2 separate regions of the Homo sapiens genome follow, and region 2 is linked to region 1. Evidence: fine-mapped QTL for protein levels in blood plasma. A gene starts in region 1. The other region holds a variant in brackets. All regions are shown on one strand. Distances are from middle to middle.

Region 1 (11,519 bases):
GGATTACAGGTGTGAGCCACCACACCTGGCCAGAATTCTCAATAGTTTATGGATATTCTGTTCTCAAAGGAGTTGAACATAATTCTCCACTCCTTAAGGGTAAGCTTCTTAAGCCCTTAACTTGGCCAGGTGTGATGGGTTACACCTGTAATCCTAGCACTTTGGGAGGCCAAGGCAGGAGGATTGCTTGAGCCCAGGAGTTTGAGACCAGCTTGAGCAGCATGGCAAAAACCCTGTCTCTATAAAATAAATACAGAAAAATTAGCTGGGGGTAGTGGCATGCGCCTGAGTCCTAGCTACTTGTGGGGCTGAGGTTGGAGGACTGCTCGAGCCCAGAAGGTCGAGGCTGCATTGAGCTGAGATTGTACCACTGTTCTCCACCTGGGCGACAGATGAGACTCTATCTCAACAAACAAACAAAAAACAGTAATAAGTCATGTCAATAGTATATACCCTTGACATGGTGTGACAAGAATGTCATTTTACCTCTGTGGTCTTTCTCCTAAAAACAATAACCCTGGTCTAATAATGAGAAAAACATCAGGCAAATCCCAATTGAAGAACATTCTACGAAACAGCAGACCAGTACTCCACAAAACTGTGAAGGTCATCAAAAACAAGGAAAATCTGAGAAAGTGTCACAGCTAAGAGGAGCCTAATGAGACACGATGACTGAATATAATATGGTATCCTGGATGAGATTCTGGAACAGAGAAAAGATATTAGGTGAAAAATAAGGAAATCGGGCAGGCACAGTGCCTCACGCCTATAATCCCAGCATTTTAGGAGGCCGAGGTAGGCGGATTACCTGAGGTCAGGAGTGCGAGACCAGCGTGGCCAACATGGTGAAACCCTGTCTTTACTAAAAATACAAAAAAAAAAAAAAAAATAGTTGGGTGTGGTGGTGCATGCCTGTAATCCCAGCTATTCAGGAGGCTGAGGCAGGAGAATTGCTTGAACCTGAGAGGTGGAGGTTGCATTGAGCCAAGATCGCACCACTGCACTCCAGCCTGGGTGACAGAGCAAGACTCCATCTCAAAAAAAAAAAAAGAAAAAAAAAAGGAAATCTGAATAAAATATGGACTTCACTTAATGATAATGTATCAGTATTGGTTTGTTAATTGTGACAACTGTACAATACTAGTATAAGATGTTAATAATGGGGAACTAGGTTTGGAAACTGTACTATCTTATTAATTTTTCTGTAAACATAAAACTTCTAAAATAAAAATCTTTAAAAAATCAATATAAGGTAGCAAATGTCAAGACAGAATGAGATTGATTCATTCATCTAACAAGTATTTCTTGAGTACATATAGTGTGCTAGACAGTTTTGTTGGGAGTAGGCGTGCAGCAATGAACAAAAGGTAGAAAGATCCTTGCCTCTGATGAGTTTACATGAGATAAATGCCAAGCCTTGCAGAACTGATTTATGTTTCCCATCACAGCTTCCTCTCTTAGGAAGGAAGTCCTAGTGGCACTCCAGTGAAAATGTGACCTCATTACTTCTTGTTAAATAAGGGACAAACATGAGCCAGGCCATAGTTTAGCAGTGAGAGGTGAATAAAAAGAGACTTTGAGTAAGAAAGGATAAGTCCTGGGACAGCTGGGAGCCAGCTGGCACAGCCAGTGTTTCCTAATGCCTCCCAAACCCTGGAAGACAGCACAGCCCCCAGAGCCTATATATACCCAGGGAGCACTTGCCAGTCACAGAATGTGACCAGAGGAAAGTCTCTTCCAATCGCTGGTCTAATCCCCTTCACTTTATAGGAGAGGAAACTGAGATCTCATAGTCACAGGGATATCTCTGAATCAACTTTTTAATTTTCACTCCTCTGAGGCTGTAGACATTTATTCTCCTGCTAGACATCATCAAAAATGGAAAGGCTAGATAAATATACTTGCTTAGCATAAGATGTGAACAACAGAAAAGAATCAGAAAAACTAGATATAGAATAAACATCAATGTGGGTTTAATAATATAGGTGATAAGAGTTCCCAAGCTGCTTCTGCTCTATAATCTATCATAGAAACTTAAAGGATACTGCAGGATAAACATACACTTCCTAAAACTGAACAAACTCACTTTAAGGCAGGGGTTCCCAACTCCCCAACCGCAGGTGGGTACCAGTCTGTGGCCTGTTGGCAACTGGGCAGCACAGCAGGAGGTGAGCAGTGAATGGGCGAGTGAGCATTACTGCCTCCTGTCAGATCAGCAGTGGCATTAGATTCTCACAGGAGCTCGAGCCCTGTTGTAAACTGCACATGCGAGGGATCTAGGTTGCACATTCTTTATGAGAATCTAATGCCTGATAATCTGAAGTGGAACAGTTTCATCTCAAAACCATCCGCCCCCCACCAACCAACCCCGTGGAAAAATTATCATCCATGGAACCAGTTCCTGGTGCCAAAAAGGTTGGGGACAGCTGCTTTGAGGCCACCATAATCGAAATAAAACCGTGTTGCTATGCATTACATTGGCTAAGTAAAAGTTTACCGGGGAGCTTAAATGGTATAGAGGATAGAACAGGACTGGATACTCCTTTAAAAGGTAAAATAAAGTAAAAAAAGACCAACAACAAAAATATGAAAACTTCAGGGGCAGATTCATACCTAGGTAACAACGGAACAGAGACAGAGCCTATATAAACTAAGAGTTTTATCTGTGTAAGCACAAGCCAAATCCCATCAGGTAACTATGCCATCCTTGAGAAACTCTTTTAGGGCCATCAGCAGCATCCTGAAGCCTGACAATGCCACCCAGGTATCAGTGTTAGAGGCAGCTTATTTCCCTAACAATGCCAGCGCATTCTGCACAAAGTCAGAAATGTGACTGTGCAGCATTCCCAGGGAAAATTACTTTTGAAATTGAGTTTTCAATCTTTTTGTTAGGGATTGTTTTTAAACAACCATCAGGCCAGAAAATGCTTCCATTTTTTATCAGGGGAATGCAGTAGGCATATTAAAGTTGGATTTTAACGAAAAGATAATGAAAGAAGAATGAAAGATTAGCAGAATTAGCTTAACCTCTAACACTGAGCACCTGGACTGCACATTAGAATCACCTGGAGAGCTTTTAAAAATTCTAATGCCCTGGCCCCAGCCCAGACCAATTATATTAAAATCTCTGGGGTGGGACCCAGGCATGAGTATTTTTAAAGCTCTCCAGGTAGTTCCAACGTGCAGCCCAGACAGGAATCCACTGCTCTACACGGAGTTCATCTAAATTTTGAATATCAAATACTTCCCACTAAAGTAGGATAAAATCAGGCGCAGTGGCTCATGCCTATAATCCCCACATTTGGGGAGGCCCAGGCGGGAGGATCACGTGAGGTGAGGAGTTTGAAATCAGCCTGGGCAAATAATGAGACTACCTCTCTACAAAAAGTAAAAAATGAGCCAGTCATAGTGGTGTGTACCTGTAGACCCAGCTACTCAGGAGGGTGAGGTGGGAGGATCTCTTGAACATAGGAGTTTGAGGCCGCAGTGAGCTTTGATTGTGCCACTACACTCCAGCCTGGATGACAGAGTGAGAATAAGTCTCTAATAATAGTAATTAATAACAATATAATAAGATTAAATTAAATTAAAAATTAACAAATAATGAGGCCGGGCCTCACGCCTGTAATCCCAGCACTTTGGGAGGCCAAGGCAGGTGGATCACCTGAGGTCAGGAGTTGGAGACCAGCCTTGCCAACATAGTGAAACCCCATCTCTACTAAAAATACAAAATTAGCCAGTTGTGGTGGCACGTGCCTGTAATCCCAGCTACTCAGGAGGAGGCTGAGGCACGAGAATTGCTTGAACCTGGGAGGCAGAGGTAGGAGTGAGCCGAGATAGCGCCATTGCACCCCAGCCTGGGAGACAAGAGCAAAACTCCATCTCAAATAAAATAAAATAAAATAAAATATTTAAAAAAATAATAAAGCAGGATTAACCAGGCATCCTAGGAGTACGATTACCCTAAAATATCACCCAACTGAATACAAAACTCTGTCATTTTAACAATTTGTCTTTTTAAGTCAAATATACCTAGATTTGACTCTCTTCAGATATTTCCAAAGCAGAGGCAATTACCTCTTAAATTCAGATATTTTTCTTTAATATACTTATGGTGAGCATGAACTACAAACTAGCTAAGAATGAGAGTCTAAACCCCACTCTTCCACTCTCCTTGGTTGGCCTTACCAAAAAGAAAAAAATAGTAAAGACAGAGTAACTTCTCTTAAATGTTTCAAAACAAAATAATTAAGATGAATCTCAGTAAACAACCATGAAATTCAGTGAGGTATTTCCTTTATTTTTTAATGGTTACAGACTCAGGGTCTGTCATGGAAATAGCTGCATAGTTTTGACTCTGCCAAATCACTCACTGAAATTACATCACAGGAGGGCTGCCAGTGCCCTGTGGGGGCTCTGAATAGCATCTACCCCTTTGGCCATTTGGGACCTGCCTGCTGAGCTGTGAAGTGGCAGGTTTTTTCCAGCGTACAGACTCTTCCTAATTATATAGCATCATGACAATTTGTCCAGCCTAATTAGGGGAGGTTATCCAACCCTGATTGAGGACACTCAATAAACAATAATGGAAAAGACAGCTTTAATTGTCCTGAGGCTTGAAATTTCTCCCATGGAAAATATCAGGGGCAGTGGCTAGATTACTGGATTTCTAAGAAAAGGGTAATTCTCTATACCAGGGAAGGGAGTAAATCTTGAAAGCAGCCATGAAAATAAACATCAAAAACCTCCCAGCCCTCAAATGTTATTTGGTCTCTTTCCCTCCAGAAGACATTCAGGTAGTAAAGGGAATGAAATCAACACTCCTTAGTTGCCTGATACAAATACTAAGTCATTCCAATCAGGAAGATAGTTGTAATTAAGACTACTACACTAGTTGACTTCCAGGTGATGGTGGTGTATTTGTTTCTCAGTATAAAATGGCATGGGAATACTTTTCAACAATAAAAAGAAAGGAAGTACTGTTCTATAATGCCTCATGGATGAACCTCAAAAACATTCTGTGCAGTGAAGGAAGCCGCACAATGTATAATCCCATCTATAAGAAACGACCACTAAGAAAAATCTATAGAGACAGGAAATAGGTTAGTGATTGCCTAGGACTAGGAGTGGGAGAAGAGACTGACTGACAATGGCGAGGAGATCATTTTGGGGAGGATGAACCTGTTCTGAAATTGGCTTGTGGTGATGGTTGTACAGCTCTGAAAATTTACTAAACATCATTGAACTGTACACTCAAAACGGATGGATTTTATGGCATGTAAATTGTAACTAAATAAGGCTATTTGAAAAAGTTTATATTGTACCAGAAAGGTTAGCGTCTGGGCCTGGGTCTGGTTCTTCCGCTGCCATGCAGGTCGCCTGTCACTAACACTCCTCAAGAATTCTGCTCCTTCTCCATTTCCATTTGTAAAACGTTAGCAGGATGGTGCGGGGAGAAGGAGAACACATTATCAAATCTGAGATTCTGTGCAGTCACAAGACACCAAGTCTGGGAATTTCGAAAGGCAATCAGGCATAAATTCTTCCTGAGGTGAGAAAGAAGCAAAGGTACCGGCTGCTGGGGTCAGGGCTGTCTCACACGCGTGGCTCTAGGCAGGAGCACAAATTGAACCACTGGGGAAAGTAGGACTCCAGCAGAAACGAAGGCGCAAGGCCGAATCCCTAAGGTCCAACGAGCTAGCAGTCAGTTGACAGGGTTTCTAACAAAAACGCGGCATGCGTTTACCAAACCTAGGGTGGTTTTATTTCAGAAGTAGGAACTCTTTCCACGAGAGCACCAAGTTGAGAAGTTCGGTTCTCAGGCCGCGTGGACCTGACAGCTCTCAGAAGCTCCAGGCCTCGCTGGGTGGGGCGGGTAGCGGCCGCCGCTGCCTCAGCAGCCCTGGTCCCGGCAGAGCAGGGCTGGCGAGGCCGCTGCTGCCGCCGTCGGGGCCGCCGGCCCTCCACACTCGTTGAGACGCCGGCACGGGGACCTTCGTGCCCCTCTAGGGACTGGCGCCGCGTCCAGGTGGCCGAGCCTGCGCTGCTGGAGGAGGCGCCTCCGCGCCGGCCTCACCCCGGGGCCGGCAGGGGGCGAAGGCGGAGCTGGAAGTCGCCGCCGGGCCCCGGGGGACCGGCTCCCGCGCTTCCTCCCGCGCCCCCCGCACAGTGCTCATGCGCACGGCCCAGCCTTTATAGCGGCCGCGGGGGCCTTGCCTTCCGCACTCGGGCGCAGCCGGGTGGATCTCGAGCAGGTGCGGAGCCCCGGGCGGCGGGCGCGGGTGCGAGGGATCCCTGACGCCTCTGTCCCTGTTTCTTTGTCGCTCCCAGCCTGTCTGTCGTCGTTTTGGCGCCCCCGCCTCCCCGCGGTGCGGGGTTGCACACCGATCCTGGGCTTCGCTCGATTTGCCGCCGAGGCGCCTCCCAGACCTAGAGGGGCGCTGGCCTGGAGCAGCGGGTCGTCTGTGTCCTCTCTCCTCTGCGCCGCGCCCGGGGATCCGAAGGGTGCGGGGCTCTGAGGAGGTGACGCGCGGGGCCTCCCGCACCCTGGCCTTGCCCGCATTCTCCCTCTCTCCCAGGTGTGAGCAGCCTATCAGTCACCATGTCCGCAGCCTGGATCCCGGCTCTCGGCCTCGGTGGGTGCGCGCCCCTCACGACCCCGGCCCCTTGCTCCGCTGGGTGGAGGCTGGAGCCAGCCCTCACGCTTCTCTCTTCGCAGGTGTGTGTCTGCTGCTGCTGCCGGGGCCCGCGGGCAGCGAGGGAGCCGGTGAGTGGGGGAGCTGGGGTGCGTCCAGGCGGTCGCAGGGGCTGAGCACCAGCGGGTACAAGCGGGACTCAGATCCAGCCCCTTGGGCTTCAGCCCTACCGCCTGAGGAGGAAGGCGCGAAGGTTGAGCCGCCGCGTGGCGCGCCCGCGTTAACCCCTGCAGCCGATCTGCTCCTGCTCACCTGTTTCTCCCATGGTAGGGGGCCCCTGGGGTCCAGTGGGGGGACGTTCTCCAAGAGCACTAGGAAGAAGGCCTCCTCCAGGCCCACCCACAGCCCCAGACCCCGGGCCCGCTGAGCGCCGGCAGCAGGAGGTCGAGGAAGGAGGACTCCTTGAGCCTCACCGAGGAGCGCACCAGTCCTGGGCTCTGCTGCGTTTGGGGGTGGAGGAGAAGCCGCCCAGACCCGACTTCAGGTTGCCGTAGCCGAGAGAGAGGGAGGCGAACGTCGCTGTCCCACCTTGTTTGACTCGCTAGCTATGTTTCTAGGTGTAACCCCTATAATCAGAAGCACTCGCGGTCTCACTCTACACGCTAGAGAGTTTAAAAAGTTTGTACCACGTGTAGAGGTCCGGGTATGGGTGTGTGGTTTGGTGTATTTTCCAGTGTAAAAGGCAACGCTTTCCTAAGAGCTACCGTTTGTTTTCCTTGAAAGTAGGAATGAGGGTTAAGTATCCCTCATGGCTGTATTTCTCCCGCTCTACTTAACAAAAGTCAGTGTTCGCAACTAAAGGCGGTCGGTCTTGGCACCGGATTCCGATGCCGCCCCCATCTCAGCGGAAAATGGGAGGAAGGATTAAGGCTGTTTGATGATAGGTATGAGGCTGTTTAGGGGTAAGGATTTTAACCTCTCAGCTCTCTAGACTGCTTCAGAGCTAAGAAATGGGCATTGCGCCTGCATCCTTCCTTCTCTTCCATGGAATGTAAGGTACCTGTCACCACAAAGGGCACAGAGGAGGGTGCTTGTCACAGGCAAGGTACTCAGTTGGACAGTATGGCCAGAAAGTATTCCTCTGCCTTGGAAAAAAAAGGTTTTTAAAATTAATATATGTTTTAAAAAGGTTTGGATAACTACAACTTCCCATGTTTGAAAAATAGCATTTAATAACATTAATCTCAATTTAGTATCGACAGTAAATTCACAAATTAACATGTTGTATTATGTTATCTTGTTACTTGTTGCCAAGAGCTTGTCTCTTCCTAGCATCATTTATAGTAAAAACTGATTCTTTGTTAGGTTGACAGTGTAAAACTTGAGAATATTAACAGTGCTTTCTAAAAATGCATCCGCTGCTTGATAAATCTCACTGGACAGATCTGGAGCAGAAATAATCAGGTTCAATTAAGATAAAAATGCTGTATTCTGAAGGGATTCACTTTTCTGTTTTCTGTCCTTCGGGAGTTGTAGAATGTTGTTTGGGCAAATTAACCCCACGGCTTTAATTTTCTCATCTATAAAATGAACAATCAAGTTAGATAACTTTCTGTGAATCTAAGCATCTTTTTGTTGGCTTCCTTAATGTGTGAGTTTAAGGATCTGCATTTGTAGGCTAACTAGGATAAATGGTCCTATGAAGGAAAGGATGGCTTTGATTTGTGCACATGTCTATGAAAATGTTCCACAAAGGCTCAATCCAGATTTACTATCTTTACCTCAAGCAACTGTGTACATAGCGTCATCAAAGTTGAGATTTAAAAATTTTTTTTTTTCTTCTGGAGACAAGATCTTATTCTGTAACCCAGGATGGAGTGCAGTGATGCAATCATAGCTCATTGCAAGCTTGAACTCCCGGGCTCAAGCAATCCTCCCACCTCAGCCTCTCCAGTGGCGGAGAGTACAGGCATGCACCACCACGTGTGGCCATTTAAAAAAAATTTTTTTTTTTTAGAAGAGATGAGGTCTTGCTATGTTGTCCAGACTGGTCTTGACCTCCTGGACTCAAGCAAATCCTCTTGTCTTGGCCTGCTAAAGTGCTGGGATTATAGGCATGAGTCACCACGCCCAGCCAAGATTTTTTATATTTCTATAATTAATATTAAATGACTTTTATTTTCTAGTTCAGATATAGTTCCAATTATGTATTTCCAACCTGGTTAAGAACTGAGAAGCCAGGCACAGTGGCACACCTGTAATCCCAGCTACTAGGGAGTTGGAGGTGGATCACTTGAGCTCGGGAATTTGAGCCTAGCTTGGGCAACTTGGCGAGTCCCCATTTCAAAAACAAAAACGAAATAAAAACCCAGAACTTTCACATTAGAGTTTTATAGTGGCTGGGGACTATATTAAATTGGAAAACAACCTTGTGGCTTGCCAAAATCTGGAATGGTATGGAAGGGTATATAAGTCAATAGTCATAACTAGAAGTGTAGAAATTAGGGAAGTAAAACTTAAATCTCACACTGTAGTCTCCCCACCACTATGCCCCAAGAAGTCCTAAGAATGCTTACAATATTATCTCCTTTTTCTTCAGCTCCCATTGCTATCACATGTTTTACCAGAGGCTTGGACATCAGGAAAGAGAAAGCAGATGTCCTCTGCCCAGGGGGCTGCCCTCTTGAGGAATTCTCTGTGTATGGGAACATAGTATATGCTTCTGTATCGAGCATATGTGGGGCTGCTGTCCACAGGTAAGCCCAAACACACCAGGGTGGGAGAGAAATGCAGACGTGATTATTTCCTTTCCTGCTTTACCCATCTGGATCCCTTTCCTCCCTGCATTCTTTCTTTTGTTGCCATTGTGGCCACAGAAAATGGATATATTTTCACGGTTCTCCTGGATATACTTGAAACACCAAATACACATGGAAAGCTTTCTGACAAAAGGCAAATAGCATTACCTCTTGATGGCTAGATTGCTATGATTCCAAAACATTCCTAATCATGTGATATATTACTGAGTTATTACTATGTGCCACCTATTGTTTTAACTTCCACCACAACTCTACAAGGTAGGTAGAATTTTACTCCAGTTACAGATGAAGAAACTGAACTCAGAGAGTTGTCAAGTATCTTGCCCAAGGTGACTATTGTTAGCAAGTGCCATGCTATCCTGTAGTAGAATAGCCAGTATAATACTTCTAAAAAAATTCAGTCCAAAGGCATGTAGCTAAAGTGAGTATCTTAGGAAAATTGTTTGGTGCTCTGAATTTCTAAGTTGTGGGTAATGGGATATTACAAATGTGTTCTTATCAACACTTAAGAAGTTCAACAGCACAAAACCATTTTTTTCCAGGCAAATTTTGTTCTTGTGTAAGCAAGTTTTTAAAAGGCTAGCAGCAGCTGGGAGTGGTGGCTCACACCTGTAATCCCACCACTTTGGGAGGCTGAGGCGGATGGACCACTTGAGGTCAGGAGTTCGAGACCTAGCCAACATGGTGAAACCCTGTCTCTACTAAAAATACAAAAATTAGCCAGGTATGGTGGTGCATGCCTGTAATCCCAGCTACTTGGGAGGCTGAGGCAGGAGAATCACTTGAATCCTGGAGGTGGAGGTTGCAGTGAGCCGAGATCGCGCCACTGCACTCCATCCTGGGCTACAGAGCGAGACGCCATCAAATAAATAAATAAATAAAGCAGAATCTTTAGATGACTTCCCTGATGAGCTATTTTCTTGATTAATCAAAGCAATAGATACAACATGGCACTATAAGTCAGTGGGATGCCCTGAAAAAGTGTGGATAGCATCTCAGCTGCTATTCTTGTGTTACAGGGGAGTAATCAGCAACTCAGGGGGACCTGTACGAGTCTATAGCCTACCTGGTCGAGAAAACTATTCCTCAGTAGATGCCAATGGCATCCAGTCTCAAATGCTTTCTAGATGGTCTGCTTCTTTCACAGTAACTAGTAGGTATAATTATTGTTCTCATTCTGTAATATTCTCCCACCCCCCAAACGTTTTCTGCTTTTTTTAGCTCAGCCTCTTTAACCTTGATGGAAAAACCTGTGATCAAGACTAAAGCTGACCTATAGAGGTAAACTGTAGGTTAGACTGAGGGGTCAAGTACCCACTGAAGCCAAATTTGGGTGAATAGAAGACAATCTTACTGACAGATGATGGCAATAGAAACTTGAATTATTTGCAGTCAGAATGCCCGGACACTTACCAAGGAACTGAAAAACTACTAAATACATTTTTGATGATCCTTTGAAGATATAATGGATAAGCATTTTGGTTCTCTGAAACTAGCATGCAGCAGGATGTTTGTAACTACAATCACCATTACCCTATTACATTTGTCATTGTAGAGAGCTCTAAATTAGATTCATAATACTTTGGTAAAGAAGGAAAAGGAAAAAAATAAGCTTATTTTTATTTTAACAGAAGGCAAAAGTAGTACACAGGAGGCCACAGGACAAGCAGTGTCCACAGCACATCCACCAACAGGTATGAACTATGAAACCTATCTCCTAGTTGCCCGGCACAGCATTTGGAAGTTATGAATAAACGTGTTGTTGGTAGAAGCTTTTCTTAAAGAAATTTGATATTAAAGAGAAACAAAGCAAATACCTTAAGTTTACTGGTATATTACATATGGAAACATTCATTATGTGTATATTTTAAAGACAGGGTCTCACTCTGTTGCTCAGGCTGGAGTACAGTGGTGCAATCATAGCTCACTGCAGCCTTAACCTCCTAGGCTCAAGCAATCTTCTCACCTTGGCCTCCTGAGTAGGTGGTACTACAGGCACATGCCACCACACCCAGCCAATTTTTTTGATTTTTAATTTTTTTTATTTTTATTTTTTTAGACAGGT
Region 2 (11,519 bases), 240 kb before region 1:
AAGTTCAAATAAGATTTGGGGCATACCTGCCATTCGTTGTATATGTTTAAACAAATGGAAGCTCCATTTGTTTTAATACTGTGTTTCTGATGACTATACTACATATTAAAATAACGTGTCAGTAAAACTGTACCAATACAAGAGAGCTTTTTGAAAAATAAATTTGCGTGGCCGTAAACTTGTATGCAGAAATTTTGTAGATCATTAAAATCTAATCGTTTGTATTTCTGCAGAAATAAACATAGTAAGATTTTACAGAATTACTAGGTAGTGCTAGATCTATTTTTTATCAAATTTTTACTGTCATTGAATTCTGCCTTATTTTCAGAGGAAGGTAAATCCTTGTATATATATTATAATGCAGAATTAGCTATTTCCCTCATGCCTATGGAGAATGTTTTGGGAGATAACTCACAGTCCTTAAATATTCTAGATACTAGAATATTTGGGTGGATGAGATAATAGTTGGCATTTATTGAGCATTTACTATTGTTAGGCATTGCATTAGGTGATTATGTATTATCTCCATTTTACAGGTGAGGAAAGTAAGATAGAGGTAAACTAACGTGCCTGTTTCTTGCTTTGCCTGCCTGAAAAATCTTTATTGGTCTCCTGAAAAATCTTTATTGATCTTTTGAAGGTCATCCCACAAGCCATCTCCTTTCTTCCTGGTTCACTGTCCCCTCTATCCATACCTTCAGTTCAATAGGTAGAATCAGTTGCCTCCTGCTCCGTGTTACTGTTGTTCTTCATTGAATGCGTCTTCGTTACAGGTTCTTGCACATCTTCCCAGCTTCTCAACATTGCAGGGTCCCATTAGTGTTCTCATCTAGCGCCTTAGCTTTCAGTATTATCTGTATGTTGATGATTCCCAGGTTTATATCCCTAGTCTGGCCGTCCCATCTGAACTCAGTCTACTCCATATCAGTTAATGGCAGTTCCGTCCTTTTAGTTGTTCAGGTCAAAAACCTTGAAGTTTTCTTGACTTGTCTCTTTCATGTCTCATGTAAGATCTTTCAGTAAATCTTGTCAGTTCTACTCTGAAAATACATCCAGGATCTGACTGTTGTCATTGCTATTCCGAGGTCCTGTCCACCATGAATTTCTGCAGTAACCTATTTGGTCTCTTTGCTTTTACAATCCTGTTCTCCTTCATTATTTTTCACACAGTACCCAAACTGATCATGCCATATGTTTGCTCAAAATCTTCCAGCATCTTCCCATTTCAACCATGATAAAAGCCAAAGTGATCTTACAGTGTTCTACAAGGCTTTATACGATCTGGTTTCCATGTAGCTTTTGGACCTCACTCCCTATTTCTCTTCCCTCTCCTTGAACCCACCAGGAATGCTCCCACCTTCGAGCCTTTGTATTTGTTTCTTCTTTGTGGAGTACTGTTTCAGAGATAATCTCCATGGCTCACTCCCTCACTTCCTTTAGGTCTTTACTCAAATGTTACCTTCTCAGGAGGCTTTCCCCAATTATTCTGTTTAAAATTACACCTCAACTCCATCTTCCCCTTTCCCAATCTTACCTTTCTTCAAAGCACTTACCATGATCTACATACCATATGTTTTACTTTTTTTTTATTTTATTTTTTTTATCCCCCAATTAGAATGAAAGCTACTTGAGGACAGGCGATTTTATTCACTGTTTTGTTCAGTTGCTAGATCCCCAATAACTACAGTGCCTGTGGTGAGCACTCATCAAACGTGTTGAATGAATGAATAGTGTGTATGTAAGTAATGACATTAACCAAGTCTAGGAATATGGATACAGGTTGAGTATCCCTTATCCAAAATGCTTGCGACCAGGAGTGTTTTTGATTTTGGAATATTTGCATTATTACTGGTTGAGCATCCCAAATTTCAAAATCCGAGCACCAGCTTAAAAAATTTTGATTTTGGAGCATTTCAGGTTTCAGATATTAAGACTTGGGATGCTCAACCTGTAGTATATTTAGAGCCAATAAGAAAAATGGTTTGTCATTTCAGATAAAGTCATGGTTTAAGCCTTGGGTAAACTCTGATAAAAGTAAAATTACGTTCTTGTAAACTCTGAACACAGGCCGTGTACTCCATTAACAAATCCTTTTTGTTATAGGTATAGGTATACCTATATAGGTATAGGTATATAGGCATATAGGTATACCTATATAGGTATAGGTATATAGGCATATAGGTATACCTATATAGGTATAGGTATATAGGTATATAGGTATATAGGTATATCAATAGGTATATTGATATAGGTAAAAGGTATATCAAAATACCTTTTAATAAGTTAGCCAAGGCTCAAAGTTGGAGAAAATCTCAGACTGGGCTGAGAAGGCGAATGTAGGATTATCTTATTTGCTGCTGCTGGCCTCTTTCAGTTAGCTAAGGCCTAACTGTGCAGCATACTAAACACCTGAGGCTCACATGGCAGCTCAGGCTTTCGTTCTTCCAAGTTGTCAGGCTTCAAGAGTGTGAACAGCTGTTCCCAGAAACAGGGTTTCCTCCCTCTTGGGCGTGAGTGCCAGGGTGGTGGTGTCTTTATTGCCTGGAGGTGGAGGAAGAGCTCTGCAAATGCACAGTGGGAGAGTTAATCCTGAAACCCCCTCCGTGCTTCCTGTGTTATTTCAGTTTTAAGTGTTAAACTGTTTTTTTGTTTATATTAAATATATTTAATATTATAAATACATTAAATAAAATACATTTTTATTTAATGTAAAACCTGTGGGCCTCTGAAGTAGGTAATATTGGTAATGTGTATTTTTGGCTGGACATTAGGTAATAACATTTTACCAAAAATTATGTCTGTAGGTGTATGGTAAATACACCTGATAGCAATAACTTAAGCGTGCCCTGAGAATGACCCTGTATTGCAGACACACCTGGATATGTGTTTCAAGCTAGGGAATCAAAATGGCCCACCTGGAGATTCATTCCTTGTCTGTGAGGAACATCTGAGCCCCCAGCCCATCCAGTGAAACATAGGCCATGCAGTGGATCAAGGCCCCGAGTTTTGGGTTGAATGAAGGTTGCCAGGTGGAGGTTGTTAGGGAAATGTTAAGTGAAAATGCTGTATAAACCACATTTTTGCTATATAAACCACTTTTTGCATGCAGTTATGGTTCTCCTGCCCAGCGCATTGCCACTGAGTATACAGTTCTCCTGTCCAGCCCACTGTCACTGGACTCTCCTATGTGTGTTGCCCCCATTAAAACCCTGTGTCTCATTTCCTGGCTCCGGGTCTCTTCTTAGGCCTCTCAAACATGGGTATCTTCCCCACTGGAGGCAATAAGGGTTCGGCACAACAGTATGTACACACACATAAGTATGCAAATGTATCACTGAAGTACAATCTGTTCAGTAATAGCAGTTTTAACAGCATTATACCTACCTCAGCAAGCAAGCATTTAATAGAAGTTTTTCTTGTGAGTGAATGAATATGCTGTAAGTTGATATTCAGGTGATTTTAGTATTACATAGTTCTCTCGTAGGACTTTGGAGTATAGGTTATTCTGTATTACTTAAAGCCTGATGCAAATGTTTTTAACAATCAACCAAGTGGATTTTAAGGCTGTCAATTTTATAAAAATTAAATCAAGAAATTACAACTAGTATACTCTCTTGAATATTTGGCCATCTCAGTTTCACGAAGAAGTATATTAAGGGATTTTCATTTTCTGTAACACTGTTACAGATGAGTGATAAATAACACAAAATACTGTAACAGACCCGTAACTGTGATTTTTGATGTTGTATATTTGCTTAGCTGGAATTATCAGTTATCTACTATATGGGAAAGTCTGTTTTCCCAAGGGACATAGAATTTTAAGCAACTTTTCGGTGAATCTGACAGGATAAATTGTTTGTAAAATATACTCTTACATAACTATAGACAGATCTGTATGAAGGTTTTGTATATGAACCAATTGAATATGCCATGGATAATTTTGTTTTTAGAAAGACTGATCCAGGCCGGGCGTGGTGGCTCACGCCTGTAATCCCAGCACTTTGGGAGGCCAAGGCGGGTGGATCACCTGAGGTCGGGAGTTCTAGACCAGCCTGACCAACACGGAGAAACCTCATCTCTACTAGAAATACAAAATTAGCCGGGCATGGCAGCGCATGCCTGTAATCCCAGCTACTCGGGAGGCTGAAGCAGAACTGCTTGAACCTGGGAGGCAGAGGTTGTGGTGAGCCGAGATCACGCCATTGCACTCCAGCCTGGGCAACAAGAGCGAAACTCTGTCTCAGAAAAAAAAAAAAAAAAAAAAAAGAAAGACTGATCTTTCTCACTAGGCCACTCACACTTAAAAAAAAAAACAGACAGACAGACTGATCCTTCTCACTAGACCACTCAGACTTAAAAAAAAAAAAAAAAAAGACTTACCTTAATCTATGCTTTCAGCCAGACAGTACACAGGCAACAGCATCAGTATATTGAGGCCATTGCAAGTTCTTCCTGAACATTTCCCGCGATTTCATCTGTGGACAGATGCTTATTGTGTTTTGGGAAATCTCCCAAATACATGTCAATTAGCTGTCGATGGAATAGTCTT[A/G]CAAGATCTGACCCCTAGTTCTACACATATAGTCATTTGGTTAATCAGTTTTACTAGAGTTGATTAGTTTATTTTGCTTTGGGGTAGTGAATGATGATGGAGGAAAAATAAAATCCTAAAAAACAATGACAATATTTGATAAAACTTTTTATTTTCAGTGGCTTTGAAGCGTATGTTGAATTTCAATGTGCCTCATATTAAAAACAGCACAGGAGAACCAGTATGGAAGGTAAGAGTTTATCTTAATGGGAACTGATTTCTGTTTTTCTCAGCCCTTATTGGTGGTAATTGGAGGGAATTTATTGTAATATGGAAGAAGTAACACATATTAGTTATCATGAATGTTTTATCCTTATTTAACATGATCTCTTAATATGAATTGTTTTGACAGACATTCTATGGAGTGAGACAAGTGATAAAATAGTAATTTTCATCTAGGGAGTCCAGTTGATCTCTTTGGTAGGATGTCACTGATAGGTCTTTTTCCTGGTTGATATTTTGTTCCTTAGCTTTTCAAGTCCAGACTTTGGATTTTATAAGCTTGCTCGGAGTTAGTCACATTCAGAGGGCCTGGATTATTTTAACAAACTCATGAGAAAATGATCTGTAAACTGTAATACCACTTTAATAATTTATGAGATATAAAACTTAATTGAACCAGAAAGCAATCTACAATCTTTTCCTTTGAGAAATACTGGAGAGCCTTTAAAAATTCCAATTCTTTAGGCTTCTTCATTTTAAACTTCATGCAGACTCTCTTTCTTCAGATGTTATAATACAGTTGATTGGGTTTAAACTTACTGGTTAACAGTCTCTTTATATTTCTCTCTTGCTAAAAATTAAGAACAAATCAACATGTTTAGAATTTAGGGTGTTTTGAAAACTCTCTTGAGTCTTTATAAGTCCTTTGGGTTAACTCTAAAAGTAGTTAAAGTTGTCTGTATTGATTTCATAGTTTAAGCTCCAGAGTATTCCCTAATTTTCTCCTTCTTGTTCCTTTGTGGGCATCTTCCTATTGCCTCTTGCATAAACTATACTTGCTTGTTTCTAAGACCAATATTGAGCTTTTGGTTGAAATAGTTTGAGAATTTCTTGGGTACAAATTTTTGTCAGATACTTTTCCTACCCATCACTTTTTATATCATTAAAATTAATAATACACATGTATTGAGATTAAAAGAGGGAAGATTTTTGAAAGATGCAACGTGAACCTTTTATAACTAGAGCAGAAAGATTTTTAGCCTCTTTAAAGGAAATCCTGGCATTTAAGAAAATGTGTTTTCATAACAACATGTTTCATTCTCTCATTAACAATTTCTTACTCCATAAATAATTATTGAGGTAGTTGTGAAAAATGCTTACCAGTTGAGGATCTCTTTTATTTGTCTTAACCGTGAAACTAATTTTGAGTTAAAAAGCCCATTTGGAGTTCTTACCACACCTCAAAGCTGTCTGTTTTAATACTTTGAGAATGTGAGGAAGTGTATTTGATAGACTAAGTCTATCAAATACTCTTTAGGGACTTAATTTTTTTTTTTTTTTTTTTGAGATGGAATCTCGCTTTGTCGCCAGGCTGGAATGTAGTGGCGCAATCTCAGCTCACTGCAGCCTCCGCCTCCCAAGTTCAAGTGATTCTCCTTCCTCAGCCTTCAGAGTAGCTGGGATTACAGGCACGTGCCACCACACCCAGCTAATTTTTGTATTTTTAGTAGAGAAAGGGTTTCACCATGTTGGCCAGGATGGTCTCTATCTCTTGACCTAGTGATCCGCCCACCTCGGCCTCCAAAAGTGCTGAGATTACAGGCGTGAGCCACTGTGCCACAGCCAGGGACTTAATTTTTTTTAATGAGTATCTTTTTAACCTGAGATGCTTAAAATACTAAATTTTTTATTGTGGTCCTGGAACTTGTTATATATTAGTTTTGAAAATGGCTAATTTTTACATCTCTGTTTTTAGAAAAGATATATGTGAACTGGAAAAAAAATAAGGGTATGAACGTGAATTGGCTTTAAGTTCAAAGTTTATGATAGCTTAAGGATTTTATAGTCTCTATTTTTTTAAAACCTAGAAAAAAGAATTTTATAAGAAGAAATTGATATAATTATTTATTTTAGCCTGAGTAGTAATGCTTTAAGAACGTATTACTGCCTGGATGGACATTTGGGTAAATAATGATGGAAAATATTAAATTGAGGCAAGGATAACAATTCAGTATATATGATGTATTAAAATTTACTTCAACATTGTCTTAATATAGGTTCACTATTGGTTGTTCACTGATAATGATGGAAAATGTTAAATTGAGGCAAGGATAACAATTCAGTATATATGATGTATTAAAATAAAATTTACTTCAACATTGTCTTAATATAGGTTCACTATTGGTTGTTCACTGATAATGATGACACATGGTTTTTTTTAATAGGTACTCATTTATGACAGATTTGGCCAAGATATAATCTCTCCTCTGCTATCTGTGAAGGAGCTAAGAGACATGGGAATCACTCTGCATCTGTGAGTTTTTACATATTTCTAATAGTGGTATTCATTTAAAGAACATTTATAGAGAAAAATAGTGTTAGGTTACAGTATTTATGTAGTATTGAACATTTTTTCCCTGTATCTTCTTTATTCAACCCCTTATTTCTGGGATTTAAAAAAATCCTCAGTCTGAGGCTTTATAATTTCAGAATTTAAATTTTCTGCCTTGTGGCTTTTCCTTAGATTTGGTTTACCCTCTATGTAAAGGAAAAGAACTAGTAATCTTAAGGTCTCTTCCAGCTCTAAAAGTGTTTTGTTCCTTTAATTTAAATACACAGATTCTCCTTGACCTACAATGGGGTTACATACTTATAAACCCATCATAAGTTGAAATTTTGTAAGTCAAAAAAATGCATTTAATACACCTAACCTACCAAACATCATAGCTTAGCCTCTCCTACCCTCAGCATGCTCAGAATACTTACATTGGCCTACAGTTGGGCAGAGTCAGATCTAACACATAGCCTCCTTTATAATAAAACCGGGCACGGTGGCTCACGCCTGTAATCCCAGTACTTTGGGAGGCCAAGGCGGGCAAATCACAAGGTCAGGAGTTCGAGACCAGCCTGGTCACGTGGTGAAACGCCATCTTCACTAAAAAAAATACAGAAAATTAGCCAGGCATGGTGGCAGGCACCTGTAATCCCAGCTACTTGAGGCTGAGGCAGGAGAATCACTTGAACCCGGGAGGCAGAGGTTGCAGTGAGCCGAGACTGTGCCACTGCACTCCAGCCTGGGCAAAAGAGCAAGACTCTGTCTCAAAATTTAAAAAAAATTAATTAATTAAAATAAAAATAAACTGTTGAATATCTCACGTAATTTATTGACTGCAGTGCTGAAAGTTGAAAACAGAATGTTTTTATAGGTGCTTAAAATATGATTTCTATTGAATATGCACTGCTTTTGCACCATCATAAAGTCAAAAAATCCTAAGTTGAACCATTGTAAGTCAGGGAGTGTCTATATTTTTTTAAAAAAAAGGAATATCTAATTAATCATTAATATGAAAAATTTAAGTGACTATGAAGTAATGACTGTTAATCACCATAGTGGGCTATCTGTGTTGTCTTAACTGTTAAGTTTGTGTGATTATATTGCTTCTGATATGTTTAATAAAAATAAAACAAATGCAGTACTTTATGGGCTTGCCTAGTAGAACATTTGGAGAAGGGGCCAGGCACAGTGGCTCATGCCAGTAATCCTAGCACTTCTGGAGGCCCGGGTGGGCGGATCACTTGAGGTCAGGAGTTCGAGACCAGCCTGGCCAACATGGTGAAACCCCGTCTCTACTAAAAGTACAAAAATTAGCTGGGCATGGTGGCGTACCCACCTGTAATCCTAGCTACTTGGGAGGCTGAGGAAGGACAATTGCTTGAACCCAGGAGGCAGAGGTTGTAGTGAACCGAGATCGTGACACTACACTCTGGCCTGGGCAGCAGAGCAAGATTCTGTTGAAAAAAAAAAAAAAAAAAAAAAAAAGAACGTTTGGAGAAGGACTGTGTTCATGGATAGATACTAATACTTCTGTATACTAAAAGAGTCCAATTTTATGGTGTTCTAAGCTATTTGCATTTTGTTCTATTTATGATGTTATAACCAATTTTTATGATATCATATATTGAATTGAAATGTACTCTTACTGGGAATATAGTTTTAGATTTTCGATAAGTAACTTGACAGAATCTGGTTTAATCAGCTCAAATTCTTCAGTTGTATAATGAGCATTTGTTAATAGACTGTTATAGTTTGTCAATTCCAAATGTCCTTTTTTACATTTCTGAAATTAGGATCTATCTTATCACTGATGATATGTCATAACTGGCAGCATTTTTATTTCTCAGTAGTATATAAAATATATTTTAAAAATTATGTTTTAAAATTGTTACCACCTTGGGTTTCATGAAATACGGTATTTGATGAGTTTTCCTTTCATTTTTATGTCAGACTGAAATAAGCAGGTTTGCTTTGATAATGTGTTAATTTTTATGGACTGAAGTAAAGTTTAACTTCATGCTATCCTTGGAAATTGTGGTTTATTAATAAACATTGAGTGCCATTGTCTCTGTACTAAGTGTTTAACTCCTTTATTTACTAATGGAAGGACTGAAGTTTAGAAGGCTTAAGTGATTGTCTCACATTTGTACAACCAGTTAATAACAGAGCCATGGCCACATTGCTTGACCACTAATTCTGTGCTGTTTATCTACTGAACTGTAATGGCTCAGTAACAGTAACTAACAGAAGTGAGGCCTTACTCAGTACTTCATTCAGGGGTAATAGGATAGTCTACCAGTTTGAGAGTCTCGTAATCTCTGCCTAACTTGCTACTTGCCACCAGAGCATGGAAATATTACACAGCTACCATGGTGAACTCTTGTGTACTTTGCCTCCAACCATTCTCCTCTATTTGCTGGAGAATACTGTATCAGTTACTTTATACCCTGCAAGCTGGTTTAGGCTAATTTGTAGGAAACAGTAATTACAAGTTTCCACAGTATGAAATGGTGGTTGTAGCCCATTAGACAGTTGGACAAGCAGTGTGAAAAAGACCACAACCTATGGCAGCCATCACATTATCATTCTTGATATCAGTGGCAACAGTTATTAAACACAGACTCACTGGCAGCATGTGCCTCTTTCCTCTCTCTCCTTGATTATAGAAGGATGACTAGAGAGAGGTGAATATTCCTCATATAAGCATGGTTTGATGTTGGGATATTTGTATGGAAATTGTTCCTAAATTGTAAAAGGAGAAAACTGTAAAATGACTTAATCTATAAGATGCTTACATTCTCTTATGAAACAATAAATAGACAAAAATAGATTGTCTTTAATTTTTAAGGAAACATTTATATACCTTTCATTTAAAAAATATATTTGATTTCATGTTTGGTTAAATTTTTTTATAGCTTCTAAAGAATTGCTTCTAAAATTTTTTTCATTGCGTCCCCTAGCTTTCTGATTTTCCCCTCAGAGAGCCACACTTTCCTCACATTCACCCTTCCCCTCTGACCACCACATTTCTATGAAAAGTGGGAATAAGATTGATTCTGAATATGTTTTAGTTCTCATTCAAGGAGAGTGTTGGTAGAAAAGAATGTCTGACCATAAGCAGTGCTAAAAGTGTGAGCAGAATAGAACAAATGAAGACTAACAAGAAATTAGGGTCTTACTAATGCTAATAAATAATAACAACACTGACATGGGAGAAAGATAGGTTAACTCACTGATTAATTGCAACAAGAGCTTTTAGAGCACTGGTTACTGTCCTTGAGCTAGTGAACTCCCATTTTGAGGAATATTGTTTTAAATAAGTGAATAAAAAAATAAGTTTTAGTTCCTTATGTCTTCTAGGCTTTTACACTCTGATCGAGATCCTATTCCAGATGTTCCTGCAGTATACTTTGTAATGCCAACTGAAGAAAATATTGACAGAATGTGCCAGGTAATATGGGTTCTTATTTTCTGGACTCCTGAATTTGGAAATGGATTTTTTTTTCAAGAAAAATTCCTAGATGTCCAGGGTGAAAAATCAGAAATTCCTATGCCTACTTTCTCACTCTGATTTTTGAGACTATCTTTGAATTCCAAATAGCCTGAAAGACTTAAAACTTTTGGCTGAAGAAGTATTATACAGTAGTCCTCTCATGTCCACAGTTTCACTTTCCACAGTTTCAGTTATCCACAGTTAACCAGGTACTGAATATATTACAGTATTTTGAGAGACCACATTCATATAACTTTCATTACAGAATATATTTTCTGTAATATATTTCATTACAGAATATATTTTATAATTGCTCTATTTTATTTCTAGCTATTGTTGCTAATCATTTACCGTGCCCAATTTATAAATTATAAATTAAGTTTTATCATAAATATGTATGTATAGGAAAAAACATATACGGTTCAGTACTACCTGGTTTCAGGCATCCACTGGAGTCTTGGAAAATAACCCCTGCAAATAAGGGCAACCACTGTACTGGTAAAGTCTGAGTCTGGCTTTAACAAACAGAAAGCCTAGGTATATTGCCTTTCTAACTTATATAGGGTTTTCCTTTTCTAAAATAAGGGTGAGATTAGGAAGTCCACACTGGTGCAGAAGTACTATAAGGTAATCAAAGACCCAGGCTCCTTCTGTCGCTGATCATTCGTCTTTAGTTTGTTGGTTTTCCTTGTCTTGCTTGTCGCTGCGCCTGTAGGCATCAAATCTATGTTCACATCAACAAGAAGAGGGACATGGACTGTGCCAGCCCTGACTGTTGATTTTGATCAGGAATTTAAGCCTTTCCAGAAACTCCCAGAAGACCTTTATTTATTTCTCACTAGGTAGAATCAGTTACAAGGGTGGCTGCAAAAGTCAATATTTAGATGAGTCACCCCAAAGAAAATCTAGCAAGATTCTTTTAGCAAGGAAAAGGAGAAAAG

The links. PIP is the posterior inclusion probability: the model's chance that the variant is causal. Sun 2018 read protein levels with aptamers (SomaScan).
Region 2: its variant is fine-mapped to the plasma level of the COCH protein (Sun 2018, PIP 0.95).

Annotation. Positions count from the first base shown.
Region 1 is chr14:30,868,338-30,879,856 of GRCh38, forward strand. It overlaps COCH (cochlin), which reads left to right and starts at 6,222. Exons shown (of 12, transcript NM_004086.3): 1 at 6,222-6,254; 2 at 6,579-6,635; 3 at 6,719-6,766; 4 at 9,235-9,391; 5 at 10,474-10,607; 6 at 11,086-11,148. The coding sequence starts at 6,602. It overlaps COCH-AS1 (COCH antisense RNA 1), which reads right to left. Exons shown (of 5, transcript NR_038356.1): 5 at 7,842-8,215. RefSeq lists a silencer at 5,784-6,303.
Region 2 is chr14:30,623,502-30,635,020 of GRCh38, forward strand. SCFD1 (sec1 family domain containing 1) reads left to right here. Exons shown (of 25, transcript NM_016106.4): 2 at 4,708-4,778; 3 at 6,976-7,064; 4 at 10,446-10,536. Among named protein-coding and RNA genes, the nearest start is that of SCFD1, 6.9 kb to the left of the region's middle. The variant A/G (reference allele first, on the strand shown) is at 4,550.